Linked DNA regions of Homo sapiens. The protein of the gene in region 1 interacts with the protein of each later gene in a pairwise test. Each region holds a gene or a part of one and is shown on either strand. Other genes may lie near its edges.

Region 1 (8,515 bases):
TCTTGGGAGAGTGTATGTGTCAAGGAATTTATCCATTTCTTCTAGATTTTCTAGTTTATTTGCGTAGAGGTGTTTGTAGTATTCTCTGATGGTAGTTTGTATTTCTGTGGGATCGGTGGTGATATCCCCTTTATCATTTTTTATTGTGTCTATTTGATTCTTCTCTCTTTTTTTCTTTATTAGTCTTGCTAGCAGTCTATCAATTTTGTTGATCCTTTCAAAAAACCAGCTCCTGGATTCATTAATTTTTTGAAGGGTTTTTTGTGTCTCTATTTCCTTCATTTCTGCTCTGATTTTAGTTATTTCTTGCCTTCTGCTAGCTTTTGAATGTGTTTGCTCTTGCTTTTCTAGTTCTTTTAATTGTGATGTTAGGATGTCAATTTTGGATCTTTCCTGCTTTCTCTTGTGGGCATTTAGTGCTATAAATTTCCCTCTACACACTGCTTTGAATGCGTCCCAGAGATTCTGGTATGTTGTGTCTTTGTTCTCGTTGGTTTCAAAGAACATCTTTATTTCTGCCTTCATTTCGTTATGTATCCAGTAGTCATTCAGGAGCAGGTTGTTCAGTTTCCATGTAGTTGAGCGGTTTTGAGTGAGATTCTTAATCCTGAGTTCTAGTTTGATTGCACTGTGGTCTGAGAGATAGTTTGTTATAATCTCTGTTCTTTTACATTTGCTGAGGAGAGCTTTACTTCCAAGTATGTGGTCAATTTTGGAATAGGTGTGGTGTGGTGCTGAAAAAAATGCATATTCTGTTGATTTGGGGTGGAGAGTTCTGTAGATGTCTATTAGGTCCGCTTGGAGCAGAGCTGAGTTCAATTCCTGGGTATCCTTGTTGACTTTCTGTCTCGTTGATCTGTCTAATGTTGACAGTGGGGTGTTAAAGTCTCCCATTATTAATGTGTGGGAGTCTAAGTCTCTTTGTAGGTCACTCAGGACTTGCTTTATGAATCTAGGTGCTCCTGTATTGGGCGCATATATATTTAGGATAGTTAGCTCTTCTTGTTGAATTGATCCCTTTACCATTATGTAATGGCCTTCTTTGTCTCTTTTGATCTTTGTTGGTTTAAAGTCTGTTTTATCAGAGACTAGGATTGCAACCCCTGCCTTTTTTTGTTTTCCATTTGCTTGGTAGATCTTCCTCCATCCTTTTATTTTGAGCCTATGTGTGTCTCTGCACGTGAGATGGGTTTCCTGAATACAGCACACTGATGGGTCTTGACTCTTTATCCAATTTGCCAGTCTGTGTCTTTTAATTGGAGCATTTAGTCCATTTACATTTAAAGTTAATATTGTTATGTGTGAATTTGATCCTGTCATTATGATGTTAGCTGGTGATTTTGCTCGTTAGTTGATGCAGTTTCTTCCTAGTCTCGATGATCTTTACATTTTGACATGATTTTGCAGCGGCTGGTACCGGTTGTTCCTTTCCATGTTTAGCGCTTCCTTCAGGAGCTCTTTTAGGGCGGGCCTGGTGGTGACAAAATCTCTCAGCATTTGCTTGTCTGTAAAGTATTTTATTTCTCCTTCACTTATGAAGCTTAGTTTGGCTGGATATGAAATTCTGGGTTGAAAATTCTTTTCTTTAAGAATGTTGAATATTGGCCCCCACTCTCTTCTGGCTTGTAAGGTTTCTGCCGAGAGATCCGCTGTTAGTCTGATGGGCTTCCCTTTGAGGGTAACCCGACCTTTCTCTCTGGCTGCCCTTAACATTTTTTCCTTCATTTCAACTTTGGTGAATCTGACAATTATGTGTCTTGGAGTTGCTCTTCTCGAGGAGTATCTTTGTGGCGTTCTCTGTATTTCCTGAATCTGAATGTTGGCCTGTCTTGCTAGATTGGGGAAGTTCTCCTGGATAATATCCTGCAGAGTGTTTTCCAACTTGGTTCCATTCTCCCCGTCACTTTCAGGTACACCAATCAGACATAGATTTGGTCTTTTCACATAGTCCCATATTTCTTGGAGGCTTTGCTCAGTTCTTTTTATTCTTTTTTCTCTAAACTTCCCTTCTCGCTTCATTTCATTCATTTCATCTTCCATTGCTGATACCCTTTCTTCCAGTTGATCGCATTGGCTCCTGAGGCTTCTGCATTCTTCACGTAGTTCTCGAGCCTTGGTTTTCAGCTCCATCAGCTCCTTTAAGCACTTCTCTGTATTGGTTATTCTAGTTATACATTCTTCTAAATTTTTTTCAAAGTTTTCAACTTCTTTGCCTTTGGTTTGAATGTCCTCCCATAGCTCGGAATAATTTGATCGTCTGAAGCCTTCTTCTCTCAGCTCGTCAAAGTCATTCTCCATCCAGCTTTGTTCCGTTGCTGGTGAGGAACTGCGTTCCTTTGGAGGAGGAGAGGTGCTCTGCATTTTAGAGTTTCCAGTATTTCTGTTCTGTTTTTCCCCATCTTTGTGGTTTTATCTACTTTTGGTCTTTGATGATGTGATGTACAGATGGGTTTTTGGTGTGGATGTCCTTTCTGTTTGTTAGTTTTCCTTCTAACAGACAGGACCCTCAGCTGCAGGTCTGTTGGAATACCCTGCCGTGTGAGGTGTCAGTGTGCCCCTGCTCGGGGGTGCCTCCCAGTTAGGCTGCTCGGGGGTCAGGGGTCAGGGACCCACTTGAGGAGGCAGTCTGCCCGTTCTCAGATCTCCAGCTGCGTGCTGGGAGAACCACTGCTCTCTTCAAAGCTGTCAGACAGGGACATTTGAGTCTGCAGAGGTTACTGCTGTCTTTTTGTTTGTCTGTGCCCTGCCCCCAGAGGTGGAGCCTACAGAGGCAGGCAGGCCTCCTTGAGCTGTGGTGGGCTCCACCCAGTTCGAGCTTCCAGGCTGCTTTGTTTACCTAAGCAAGCCTGGGCAATGGCGGGCGCCCCTCCCCCAGCCTCGCTGCCGCCTTGCAGTTTGATCTCAGACTGCTGTGCTAGCAATCAGTGAGACTCCGTGGGCGTAGGACCCTCCGAGCCAGGTGCGGGATATAATCTCGTGGTGTGCCGTTTTTTAAGCCGGTCCGAAAAGCGCAATATTCGGGTGGGAGTGACCCAATTTTCCAGGTGCGTCCGTCATCCCTTTCTTTGACTCGGAAAGGGAACTCCCTGACCCCTTGCGCTTCCCAAGTGAGGCAATGCCTCGCCCTGCCTTGGCTCGCACACGGTGCGCGCACCCACTGACCTGCGCCCACTGTCTGGCACTGCCTAGTGAGATGAACCCGGTACCTCAGATGGGAATGCAGAAATCACCCGTCTTCTGCGTCGCTCACGCTGGGAGCTGTATACCGGAGCTGTTCCTATTCGGCCATCTTGGCTCCTCCCCTCGACATCATCTAGCTCTAACCTTTTGGTAATCATCACATTTGAATTACTGATGGTGATTTTTCTAAATTCATCTTTATGGTGGGCAATCTCTCAAACAATATAATTTATTGCCAGACAGACATAATGATGAAAAAACATATTACATGAGTAGTTCTTTCAGAATAAAACTCTTTTGGGAGGGAGGCAGGTGTCATATAATCAGTTAAGTTCTAAGATCCTTGGAATACTACTTTTGTTTTTTTTTACTACAGAGAGGGACTAAAAAAAAAAAAAATACAACTCCTAAAGGTCAGCAATCTGGTCCCACACTCTCCAGGGAGCAAGTGCTGCCTTATGTAAGCAGGCTACTTATCTTCATCACGGAACACACACAGGCCAACTGCTAGTTACATAGCACCATAAAATGTTTTTAAATGCCTGGTAGATAATCCACAGTGCTCAAATAGAGGTACAATTATTAACATGCCAAAGAACATTAAGAGCTCTGGGTTCACAACCCAAGTTGCTAATATTAGACTCACCCAGAGAGCTTTAAATAAATACTGATGGCAAAGTCACACCCCAGACCAATTAAGTCAGAATGGACTATTACTTCTGTTACAGAGTTAATAGAATGTAAGCAGAGTTAGATCTTAGATGGAATAATATAAACTCTCATTGCACTTGTGAGCACAGTTATTTTCACCTAAACTGGGACTCCAAATGTAAAACATAGCCATAAAGAATAAGTGGGCATGTGATACTATCTGGAAAGTTTTGTTCTGTGGCAACCAACCAAAGTCCTAATTTTTATTTTTTTAAATTTATTTTATTATTATTTTTTTTTATGAGACAGGGTCTCATTCTGCTGCACAGGCTGGAGTGGTAGTGGTGTGATCATGGCTCACTGCAGCTTAAACCTGCTGGGTTCATGCAATCTTCCTGCCTCAGCTTCCTGAGTTAGGACTACAGGTGCGTGCTACCACGCTGGGCTAATTAAAAACTTGTTTGTTTGTTTGTTTGTTTGTTTTTACAGAGGCAGAGTCTCACTATGTTGCTTTGAGTTCAAGGGTGGTCTTGAACTCCTGGGCTCAAGTGAGCCTCCTGCCTCAGCCTCCCAAAGTGCTGGGATTACAGGTGGTGAGCCACCATGCCTGGACTCAATTTTTAAAAATAATACATATGCATTCCTATACATTCTAGGTGTATCATTGTCAGTGGTCCTGTTCCTGGGATCTTTGCCAAAGATAAACTAATGTGTTTTTTATTTTTATTTTTTTTGAGACAGAGTCTTGCTCTGTCACCCAGGCTGGAGTGCAGTGGCAGATCTTGGCTCACTGCAACCTCCACCTCCTGGGTTCAAGTGATTCTCCTGCCTGAGCCTCCCAAGTAGCTGGGATTACAGGCATGTGCCACCATGCCCGGCTAATTTTTGTATTTTTAGTAGAGATGGGGTTTTGCCATGTTGGCCAGGCTGGTCCCGAACTCCTGACCGCAAGTGACCCGCCCGCCTCAGCCTTCCAAAGTGCTGGGATTACAGTGTAAGCCACCACGCCCAGCCAAACTAATATGTTTTAGAAACTGGAGTGAGGTTTATCTGATATATCAAGATCTGGCATTGTTATATCAGATTAAAGTCCTTCATTATGCTGAAGACCCCAGTGCTGTAGTGTTACAGACTGAATGTTTGTGTCCTTCCAAAATGTACATGTTGAAGCTCTTACCTCTAAGGTGATGGGATTTAAAGACCAGGCCTTTGGGAGGTAAAAAGAGTTAGATTAGCTCATGAGGGACTAATACCCATTTAAGAAGAGGAGAATCGGGCCGGGGGCAGTGGCTCATGCCTGTAAGCCCAGCACTTTAGGAGACTGAGGCGGGCAGATTACAAGGTCAAGAGATCAAAACCATCCTGGGCAACATGGGAATCGCTTCAACCCAGGAGGCGGAGGTTGCAGTAAGTCCAGATCGCACCACTACACTCTAGCCTGACGACAGAGCAAGACTCCGTCTCAAAAAAAAAAAAAAAAAAAAAAAAAAAGGCTGGATGCAGTGGCTCATGTAATCCCAGTACTTTGGGAGGCCGAGGTGGGTGGATCACCTGAGGTCAGGAATTTAAGACCAGCCTGGCCAGCACGGTGAAACCCTGTCTCTACCAAAAATACAAATATTAGCTGGGCGTGGTGGTGGGCATCCATAATCCCAGCTACTTGGGAGGCTGAGGCAGAAGAATTGCTTGAACCCAGGAGGCGGAGGTTGCAGTGAGCCGAGATCACACCACTGCACTCCAGCTTAGGCAATAAGAGTGAAACTCCATATCAAAAAAAAAAAAAAAAAAAGAGGAATCTCTCTCTCTCTGTGTACATGTAGAGGCCAAGTGAGAACACAGAGAGAAGTGGGCCATCTACAAGCTAGCAAGATAGCCCTTCCGAGGAACTAAACCCTGCATCTTGATTTTGGATTTTCCAGTCTCCAGACTGTGGGAAAATAAATTTCTGTTGTTTAAAAGAGCCAGTCTGTGGTATTTTGTTATGGCAGACTAATACATATAGTGAATAGTGTAGCACAGATATCAACTTTAAGTGCATAATTTGTGGCTACATTATATACCAGTGCTTTGAAACCTTTTACCTGCCCCATTTTCATAAGCATAAAAATCTCATGCTCAAATGTCAAATGTAAATTGAGAATTATATGAACTAAATACACTTGAAAGCAAATAAAATTAAAATACTACTGAATGCTCTACTGGTGGTCCTCTTACATGCTATCCAGGTCCCACTGTGTTAAGAATTGCTAAAAAAAAAAAAAAAAAAAAAAAAAAAAAGAATTGCTCTAAATCATTCAGCCAAGTGTGGAGACAAATGAAGGCGTCTATTTCATCCTTGCTAGGATAAAATTAACGAAGCAAACCTAAAATTGTATATGTGAAATTGTGCCTCCTTTTTCATGGATTAATAAAATAAATATTCTTTTTTAAGAATATTGTGTCCTTGATTTTCAAAAAGGCTTGTAATGATTTTATTGAACTTAATTTAATGTAGACACACAGTTTTAAGAGTCTGAAATTAAAATGTACATAGAATATTGGTTAGGTTGCATGTCATCAGGATGCCAAAAAAGCCAGTTGACTGATTTACATTTTCTTTTCAACAGTTTGTTTCAGGATTGTGCAGATTAACACAATCCTTACTTAGCTCTACTTTCCCTCATAGGGTATCTTTAAAACCATTTACTGTAGTTTCATTAAGCTTAGAAAATTTAGCAAACTCATAATTAACTAGAACTGAACCTGAAACTGAAGACCTTAAAAATCCCAGCTCTTGGGAGGCTGAGGTGGGTGGATCATGAGGTCAGGAGATCAAGACCATCCTGGCCAACATGGTGAAACTCCATGTCTACTAAATACAAAAATTAGCCAGGTGTGGTATTGCACGCCTATAGTCCCAGCTACTCGGGAAGCTGAGGCAGGGGAATCACTTGAACATGGGAGACGGAGGTTGCAGTGAGCTGAGATCGCACCACTGCACTCTAGCTTGGGTGACAGAGAGAGACTCCATCTCAAACAACAACAACAAAAAAGCACTTAATTAAGTGACTCAAAAGTAACAAAACCCTGTTATCTATTTTTTTCAATTATTGTTTACCTATCATAGACAATGATTATTAAATAAGGGGCACAATAATAAAGTCATCTGTGTTTTTCTGCCAATGTAGAGATCTGAAATACACTCCTGTTTCTTAGCGAATCACTGCCTTTTGGGCAGCTGATGCTGATGGAAATAAATTGCTCATACCCCACAGGGATTAAAAACTGCCATTTCAGGCTATGCACCAGGTTCCCAGTCTCTTAAACTTCCAGTTTCATTTGAGATGTTTGTTTTCTTTTTTGAGACAGGGTCTTGCTCAGTTGCCCAGGCATGCAGTGGTGCAATGTAGCCACAATCTCTTGGGCTCAAGCAGTCCTCTCGCATAAGCCTCCCCAGTAGCTGGGACTACAGGTGCACACACCACAGCCACCTAATTTTTAAAATTCTTAGTAGAGAGGAAGTCTTGCTATGAAATGCTCTTAAAGTAAATCCCCAACAGTGGTAATGTGCTAACAATACTGATAATAAGGACTGATGATTCAAAATAATGGCCTTGAAATATTTGTTAAAAAGCTTTGATCATCAGGGTAAGACCTAACACTATGTTGTAAGGCAGAAAAATGAAGTCATTTTAGAACACTTTTTACAAACAATAGTTTATAATGAGCCTTTAGTTGACCATAAAAGTATAAATAGTTAGGATATTTTAATTTCTTTCGCATTAATCAAAGGTAGACAATGTTTAAACATTTTGGTAGTGTCTGTAAAATAATGTGTTAACAGTTAACAGGCGGTTTCAATTATGTACATAACATCTCTTTCCTCTGAACTTCCGTAGCACATAATTATAGTTCTTTTATGGAAAATATAACATTCTCACTTCCAACACTGTTATTTGTTTCTTTGTCTTTGTCTCAATAATATGTTCATATAGGAAAGGGACTGAGTCTTATTAATTGTGTTCACTCCCCTAAAATAGTGCTTTGCACATAGTAGGAATTCAATAAATGTTTGATTTTAAAACATGCTTGATTTTAGTCACTTGTTCAAGCAACATTAATTTCATTTAAAAAAATAATCCTTGGCTTTGGATCATTATCTCTAGAGTTGTCTTTTAAAATAAAAACAATCAATATTTACAAATAAAAACAGTTATGATTACAAAAACATTTGGTACATGAATCAAGTGCAAAAAGACGCTTGCTATGCTTATTATTACATGGAAATGATGCTTCCAACATTATTCATTCAAAAAAAGCATTCCAAGAAAATAAGTTGAAAAGCATCCTGACTTCTCATTCTGAATTATATCTCCCATAAAGTATTTAACAGATGCTCTTTGTATTACAATCTACTTCACATTAAAATAAACTTCCTTAGAGTATATGGCAAATGTCAAGTCAAAAGAAATTTAATATTAATGGTATATTCGAATAGCAATCTAATGAACACGGTAATACAAAACCCCTTAATAATGACTTTTCTGCTGAGATTATAAAACTTACAAATGAAATAAAGTCTATCGTAATTATAATGATATTTCATGTCTTCATATTTAATATTGAAATCATTTAAGTCTATCATTATGATTATATTTGCAAAGTAAATTTTGTTAAAACTTATCACAGAATTGTAAGTTCAGTT
Region 2 (8,515 bases), on another chromosome or scaffold:
CACAAAGAAATGGAAAGACATCCCATGCTCATGCACCAGAAGAATTAATATAATTAAAATAACCATACCTGCCAAAGAAATCTACAGATTCAGTGCAATTTCCATCAAAATATCAATGCCGTTTTTCACAGAATTAGAAAAAAAATATGAAAATTTGTATGGAGCCAAAAAAGAGCCACAATAACCAAAGTAATCCTCAGCAAAAAGAGAAAAGCTGGAGGCGTAACACTACCTGACTTCAAAATATTGTATAAGCTATAGTAACCAAAACAGCATGGCATTGATATAAAAAGTAGACACAATGGAATGAAATGAAAAACCCAAAAACAAATCCATATATTTACAACCATCTGATCTTCAACAAAGCCATCAAGAACATACACTGGGGAAAGGGCAGCCTCTTCAGTAATGGTGCTGGAATATGTGGATAACCAGATGCAGAAGAATGAAACTGGACTCCTACTTTTTACCATATACAAAAATCAACTTGAGATAAGACAACTGAAGATTTTACTTAAAGGTAAAACCTGAAAGTATAAAACTACTGGAAGAGAATAAGGAAAGCTCTTCAGAACATTGGTCCAGGCAAAGATTGTATGGCTAAGATTTCAAAAGCAAATGCAACAAACACAAAAATAGGCAAATGGGACTATATTACACTAAAAAGTTTCTGCTCAGCAAAGGAACCAATAAACAAAGTGAAGAGACAATTCCCTTCCTTGAAAGGAAGAAAATATTTGCAAATGATTTATCCAACCAGGGACTACTACTGAGCATATATCAGGAAGTCAGACAACTCAACAATTTTTTAAAATCCCATTAAAAAGTAGACAAATGACACGAATACACATTTATCCAAAAAAGACATACTAATGGCCAACAAGTATGGGAAAAATGCTTAATATCTCTAAGCATCAGGTAAATACAGATCAAAACCCCAATGAGATATTATCTTACCATAGGTAGAATGCCTATTATGAAAAGACAAAAAAAAATCAGATGCTGGTGAGGATGTGGGAAAAAGGAAACTCTTATACACTGTTGTGAGAATGTAAATCAGTACAAATGCAATGGAAAACAGTATTGCTATTTCTCAGAAAACTGAAAAAAAGAACTATCATATGATCCAGCAAATCCACTACTGGCTATTTATCCAAAGGGAAAGGAATCAATATATCAAAGGAATACCTGCATATTCATGTTTACTGAAGCACCATTCACAACAGCAAAGATACAGATTCTACCCAGATGTCCACCAAGGGAGAATGGATAAGGAAAATGTGGTATATATCCACAATGGAATATTATTCTGCCATGAAAAGAAAGAAGTTTTATTTGCAGCAACATGGATGGAACTCCAGGTCTTTATGTTAAATGATGTAAACCAGGCACAGAAAGACAAATATCACATGTTCTTACTCATATGTGTGAGATAAAGTGTTGATCACATGGAGATAAAAAGTGGAATGACGGACACCAGAGACTGGGGAGTGTGAGTGAATGGTTTCAGCAGGGGTTGGGGTGGTGAAGAGAGGTTGGTTAGTGGGTACAAACATACAGTTAGGTAGAATTAATAGTTTCTAATGTTGACTGCAGAGCAGGGTGATTGTAGTAACAGCAATGTATTGTAATTTTCAAAATAGCTAGAAGAGAGAGCATGAAATGCACCAGCACATAGAAATGATAAAAACTTGGGTCACAGATATCCCAAATACCCAGACTTGTTTATTACACATTCTATACATGTAACCAGATTTCACATGTACCCCATAAATAAGTACATATATTTTTATAGCAAAAAAACTTAAAAATGATTCTTAAAAATCTTGAAATTGCAGAATCTGAGAAATGGATATACGGAGTTTCACTACTACCTTATCTATTTTGTTTATTTTAAAAAATTATTTATAAAGGTTTTTAAAGTGTGAAAAAATCCTACAGAGTATATCATACCAAATCTATGATATTCTAGAACAAGCAAAACTATAGAGACAATGCAAGGATAAGTTGTTGTTGGAGGTTCGTTGGAAGGAGGAAGAGGGATGACTAGATGGGACACAGGGGCATTTTAGGACGGTGAAACGATTCTATGTGATACTGTAAGAGTGGATACATGACATTATATATTTGTCAATATCTACAGAATGTAAAACAAAGAATGAACCCTAGCTAAATTGTAAATTTTAGTTAATAATAATATATTAACATACATTCATCAATTGCAGTACGTGTACCACATTACAAGATGTAAACAATATGGAAAACTGTGGGGAGGTTAGTGGATATGTGAGAACTCTGTATTTTCTTATCAATTTGTTTTGGTAAAACATAATAATATTCTAGAACATAAAGCCTATTCATTTTAAAATATGCAAGGTATTTGAAAATACACTTCAATAAAAAAGATATACAGATCACAAAATTATATGAAAAGATGCTCAGCATAATTTATCCTTGGGGAAGTGCAAATTAAACCACAATAAGATTCTACTACATACTAATTAGAGTGGCTAAAAATCCTAAAATATCAGATATAAGAGATAATGTGAAACAAAAGGAACTACTCTCATTTATTGCTGGTTGGAAAAAATATATAGCACTCGTTCGATGAAAGCATTGTATTATCTGATTTATAGACATTCCAAAAAAGGTAAAAAGATACGAAAAACAGATCACCATTACTAGGGACTTGGAGGAGGCTGTTAGTTGACTACAAAGGTGAGGCATAGGGGATTCAACCCAAATTGCTGTGCATGTCAATAGTTGATTCCTCCTTGTTGGTCTATAGAATTCCATTGTGTGGATGCACCTCAATTTGTTAATCCATTCACTTACAGAAAGACATTTCATATTTTTCAGCTTTTGGAAGTATGAATAGAGCTACTATAAACATTCATGTATAGGTTTCTGGCCTGGGCATGGTGGCTCACGCTTATAATCCCAGTGCTCTGGGTAGCTGAAGCAGGAGGATCTCTTGAGCCCAGGAGTTCAAGACCAGCCTAGGCAACATAGTGAGACCTCATCTCTACAAAAAAAAAAAAAAAAAAATTAAAATGAAAAAAGATAATAAAAATGAATGTACAGGTTTTTGTGAGAACATAAGGTTTGCAAATTTATTTCACACAGTAATGGTATTTCTGAGTCATATGGTAAGTGTATGTTTATAATGAGATCATGTTCTTTGCAGGAACATCGATGGGGCTGTAGGCGATTATCCTTAGGAAACTAACGCAGGAACAGAAAACAAAATACTGCATGTTCTCACTTATAAGTAGGAGCTAAATTATGAGAACACATAGATGCACAGAGAAGAACAACACACAGAGAAGCCTGTTGGAGGTTGGAGGATGGCAGGAGGGAGAGGATCAGGAAAAATAACTAATGGGTACTAGGTTTAATACCTGGATGATGAAATAATCTGTACAACAAACCCCCACAACACAAGTTTACCCATGTAACAAACCTGCACATGTGCTCCTGAACTTAAAATAAATTTAAAAAAAAGAAGTCTGGGGGAAATAAAAGAAATTTCCAGATAGTGACTGCACAATTTTACATTCACACAGGAAACACAATAGTGTTCAAGATGCTCTTCATCCTTGCTAGCAGTTAGTAATGTCAGTGGATTTTTCAGCAGTCCTCAAAAATATGATGCATCTACCTTGATTTTAATTTGTTTTTCTGTAAAATCTAATGATGTAGGATAATTTTTCAGGTGCTTATTTAACATTTGTATGTCAATTTTAGAAAAGTGTCTATTGGTGTATTTTGCCCATTTTGAAAATGTTTTCTAATTTTTGGATTTTGAAAGCCCTTTCTGTATTCTGGATACAGGTGCTTTTTGGATATGTAATTTATAAATTTTTTTTCAACCTGTTGTTTGACTTTTTCTGCTCTCAACAGTGTCTTTCTCAAAACTAATTTTTAAAATTATTGAGGATGTCTGATATATTGTTTCTTTTTGAATTTTGGTTTTATTTTTGAGGCATCTTTTCCTAATTCCAAGTCATAAGATTTACCTTATATTTTCTTATAAAATTTTATACTTTTTAATTTGACATTTTTTTTCTCTAATTGCTTTCACTCATCAAGGGAAAGACACTAAAGAAGAATAGAGTAGATCTTCCATCACAGGTAGAGGTTGCCCCAGCCTAGTCCTGCCCCTGATATTTGACCTGAGTAGCCCCGGAAAAAGGCCACAGATAAGGACTATTCTGCCTTTCATCTTGGGCATCTGAGGGAGGTGAGGCTTTTTCTGAGGGGTGGAACTTCAGATCAGCGAATGGATAGTCTTGTCCTCTGCCCCACATACTTCAAGGTAAGGACTCTAAGGAAAGACTGAGGGGACCTCCTGCCACAGATATAGGGAGTTTTAGCCCTGCCCTCCCTGTGCTGTTAGCCCTGGGTGGCCCAAGGCAGGTTTCCCCAGTTTTGATGTCCGTAGACTTCATTTTTGGGGCCTGAGGGAGGTGAGGCTTCCTCACCTTAGACTCAAGTCAGCAGAGAGAGAAGTTCCAGCTCCAGCATGCATTAAGGTGAGAATGCAGAGAAAGGACAAAGATAGCCTTCCTCTATAGATGGACTGAGCTTCAAAGAACCTTCCTCTTCGTGTGAATCCTGAGAGGTCCCATGCATGGGTATCAGGTAGCAACAACTCTCCCTATCCCCTGACATCCTTTTAGAGGATTTCATGGAGGTGATATCCTTGGTGTGAGGAAGCCAGCCTCAAGTCAGCAGAAGGGCCGGGGTGAAGACCCTGATCAAGAGTAAATATGATTACCTTGAGAAATTGAGAAGTACACAGGGACCTCACAGAATCCAGTCCGTTTCCACTCTTAGCCCTGGGAAGAAAAGATTTTTAAAATTGAGGAAGTCTAATATATCATTTTCTTAAATGAATCATGATTTAGTTTCAGGTATTACATCTCTTCGCCTAAGTCCAGTTCAAAAGATTTCCTCCTATGTTTTCTCATAAGTTTTATAGCTTCTAATTTAATTATAATCCATGGAGCTGTAATCCATGTTAAAAAAATTTTTATATTAAGTATGCAATTCAGGTAAATTTTATTTTATATTTTTGCATGTGGATGTCCAGTTGAACTCATAGCACTGATTAAAATACCACTTTACACACATTTAATTGTCAAAAAGTAGAAAAACAAACAATATCAAGTGCTGATGACAATGTGAAAAAACAAAAACACTCTTGTAGTGCTAATAGAAATGCAAGCTAGTGCAACCTTTTTGGAAAGCAATCAAGCCTACAGCGCTTGTACTCTACAACTTTGTAATTTCCTTCCTGGATATAGGCCCACAGAAACTCATATAAATGCACAACGAAACATGTAAATGAATATTAATTGAGCATAATTTCAAAGAGTAAAAAGTAACCACTAGGGGATTTCATAAGTAAAATGAAGTAACACATAAAAAAGGAATTTATCCAGGTATCTGATAAATAAACCAAATCTATATGCTGCAATGAAAATGAAGCTCAAATAAGGCTTACCTTCAAAATAAGAAATGAAGCAAGATTTCTGACCAAATACTACTTCTGTACATTTAACACACACACACAATAATATTACATACTTTCACGTATGCGTAAATTAATATATGAATAGTGAAATAGACATTCACAAAACAAGCAAGAATGGGTGCCTTTGAGTGAAGGACAATAGCCAAGGGAGGTTAGATGAAGAAGAGAGAAAGTGATGAAATAAAATATAAACAAAAGAAAGGTTTTCAGAAAAAAAAAAACCACCACTAATTTTCTCAATTCAGTTGTCTTGAGACATTTGTAAACACTGAATGGACCTCACTGGGGCCTTCCTTTGGATTATCTCTTCTGTTCCATTAAAAAAAAATCTATCCTTTAACCAATGCCATACTTTCTTTGTTATTACTGTAGCCTTACAGTTGTAAGAATCAAAGAAAGAAGAAAGAAACAGGAAAGGTGGCTTGACAGCTAAAGACAGATTTATTAACTTCACCTTCATACAGTGGGCCCCAGTAAAACAATGGGCCTTAATAAGCACATTCCTTTCCCTTCAGGTGCACTAAGAGAAGTTAAAAGCAGACTCAGGGAGTATGCCTGCAGCTGCAGGAAGATGTATGGGAACAGACCCAAAATTCTCCCTCCCAGATAAGCACAACAAAGAAACACAGAGGCAGTCCAAGTCTCTGATAAACTCTCCCGCCCTAAATCCTTAAAAACTCTTAGTCTGTAAAAACAAAACAAAACAAACAAACGAAAAGAGTGCCTCTAACCTAACTTGCCCAAAAACCCCTCTCGGGTGTATTTTTCTAAAATAAAACTGGAAAGGCCTATGCATTATTTTTTGTTAGTAACTGTTACTGCTGCTATGAGGATAATAATTGAGCAAAATGTTATAGTAACTGAGATTTTCTGTCTGATATTTTACCTTGAGGGTGTTACAGTATATAGTCCTCCTGCAAATAGTAGAGTGAGTAAAGCAATTCCTGCAAGGGTTGCATAGTAAATAATTTTTATTAAAAATGTTTTAATATTTGGCTTAAAAGGAGAGGTAGAGGCTGGGCATGGTGGCTCACGCCTGTAATTCCAGCACTTTGGGAGGCCAAGGCGGGCGGATCATGAGGTCAGGAGATCCAGACCATCCTGGCTAACACGGTGAAACCAAATCTCTACTAAAAATACAAAAAAATTAGCCAGGAGTGGTGGTGGGCGCCTGTAGTCCCAGCTACTTGGGAGGCTGAGGCAGCAGAATGGTGTGAACCCGGGAGGCGGAGCTTGCAGTGAGCCGAGATGGCGCCAGTGCACTCCAGCCTGGGCGACAGAGCGAGACTCCGCCTTCAAAAAAAAAAGGAGAGGTAGAAATGAAAAAAAGTATTTGGTGAGGTAGGGGTGAGATTGAGTAAAATGGGTAATTTTTACTCCATTACTTATTTTTTATGATTTTCAGCTTAAGATTTTTTATTTATTTACATTAATATTTAGGACTTTTTCTGGGCTGTTAGGGGTTGCTTTCTTAGCTTTTTAGGCTTTGATTTGAGTGTGATGTATCCAGGAGTTAATTTCTGTAACAGATATAGTTTAAACTGTAGCAAATAATAAAAATTGAAAAACATTAGGCCAGACTAGAATTTAACAACAGGTGAGCTACAGTTTTTGAAACATAATTTTCCTTTTTCAGTTTCCCATTTTTATTAAAAGACAAATTATGGTAGGATTGATTTGCTTTATTATACTTGGCTTAATTATTTATATACAGTGCAGCAAGAATTTGCTACTAGACCTTTTAAATTGGCTTTGATGGAACTTTGTTTCATGGAAGGAATTTGAGATAAGACTTTTAAAAGCCAAGCCTAGCCATGGATTTGTACCATTAAATACCTATGAGTTGGGCAAATTTTTTTTCTTGAGGTTCTAAGATCACTTGGGATTCCTGGCCTGTTAGAAAGTGACATTCTTTACTTACCATAGATTAGAAACTCTGTACAGGGACTGTGTACACAAAATACGAGGTCGATTTTTCAAGGGTTTTATTGGCTATATAAGTTCTTTGATTTTTTTTAAAATTTTTATTTTATTTATTTATTTATTTATTTATTTATTTTTATTTTTATTTTTGACATGGAGTCTCGCTCTTTCACCCAGGCGGGAGTGCAGTGGTGCTATCTCGGCTCACTGCAAGCTCCGCCTCTCGGGTTCACGCCATTCTCCTGCCTCAGCCTCCCGAGTAGCTGCGACTACAGGTGCCCGCCACCCCACCTGGCTAATTTTTTTTTGCATTTTTAGTAGAGATCGGGTTTCACCGTGTTAGCCAGGATGGTCTCGATCTCCTGATCTCGTAATCCACCTGCCTCGGTCTCCCAAAGTGCTGGGATTACAGGCGTGAGCCACCGCGCCCGGCCAGTTCTTTGATTTTTTAAAGGAGAGCATACCATTCCAGTTAAAGCCTTGGTAAAATAACCAGTTTTTTTTTTAATTGTGTTCTGTTACAAAAGAAAACAGGTTCTTATTGTGCTTATGCAAACAACTATATTGTTGTAATGTAAGAATACTTACAACTAGTTTTTAAATTTTAGAGGAACTAGGCAGAAAGAAACAAACAACCTTTAAATTCACTTTACAGGAGTATACTTTGCTTAGTTGTTAAAGGCTGTAGCTAGCTTAAGACAAGTTTTCTTGACTTTGAAAAGTAAAATAAGGATTAGCAGTGTTTTAAGCAAAAGGTAAAACTTGTTTCTGTTTTTTATTAGTTTAGTCCATTTTATTAACTTTTGTTTTGCTTGATATTTATAAACATTTTAGCTGTTCATGAGTTCTGTACATTTTTTGTTGTTGTTGTTGTGAGAAACCTCCATTTGAGAGCACTTGCTAAGGCGACACAGCTTGATTATAAATCATGTTTTGAAGAGAATTAAAAGAAAATAACGATTGTCTGTAAATAACAAAATGTCTAGTTTGGATACAATTAGAAACACAACTGACAAAGAAATTTGGTTATTTCTGTGGTTTACAATAACCTAA

Evidence for each region.
Region 2: the proteins of TCF24 (region 1) and MAGEC3 interact in binary tests that used the Homo sapiens proteins (3 or more experiments, as listed by UniProt).

The regions. Positions count from the first base shown.
Region 1 is NC_000008.11:66,951,817-66,960,331, forward strand, and holds part of TCF24 (transcription factor 24), read right to left. Parts: intron 1-8,515. UniProt on the Homo sapiens protein: Putative transcription factor.
Region 2 is NC_000023.11:141,861,288-141,869,802, forward strand, and holds part of MAGEC3 (melanoma-associated antigen C3), read left to right. Parts: intron 1-4,183; coding exon 4,184-4,318; intron 4,319-8,515.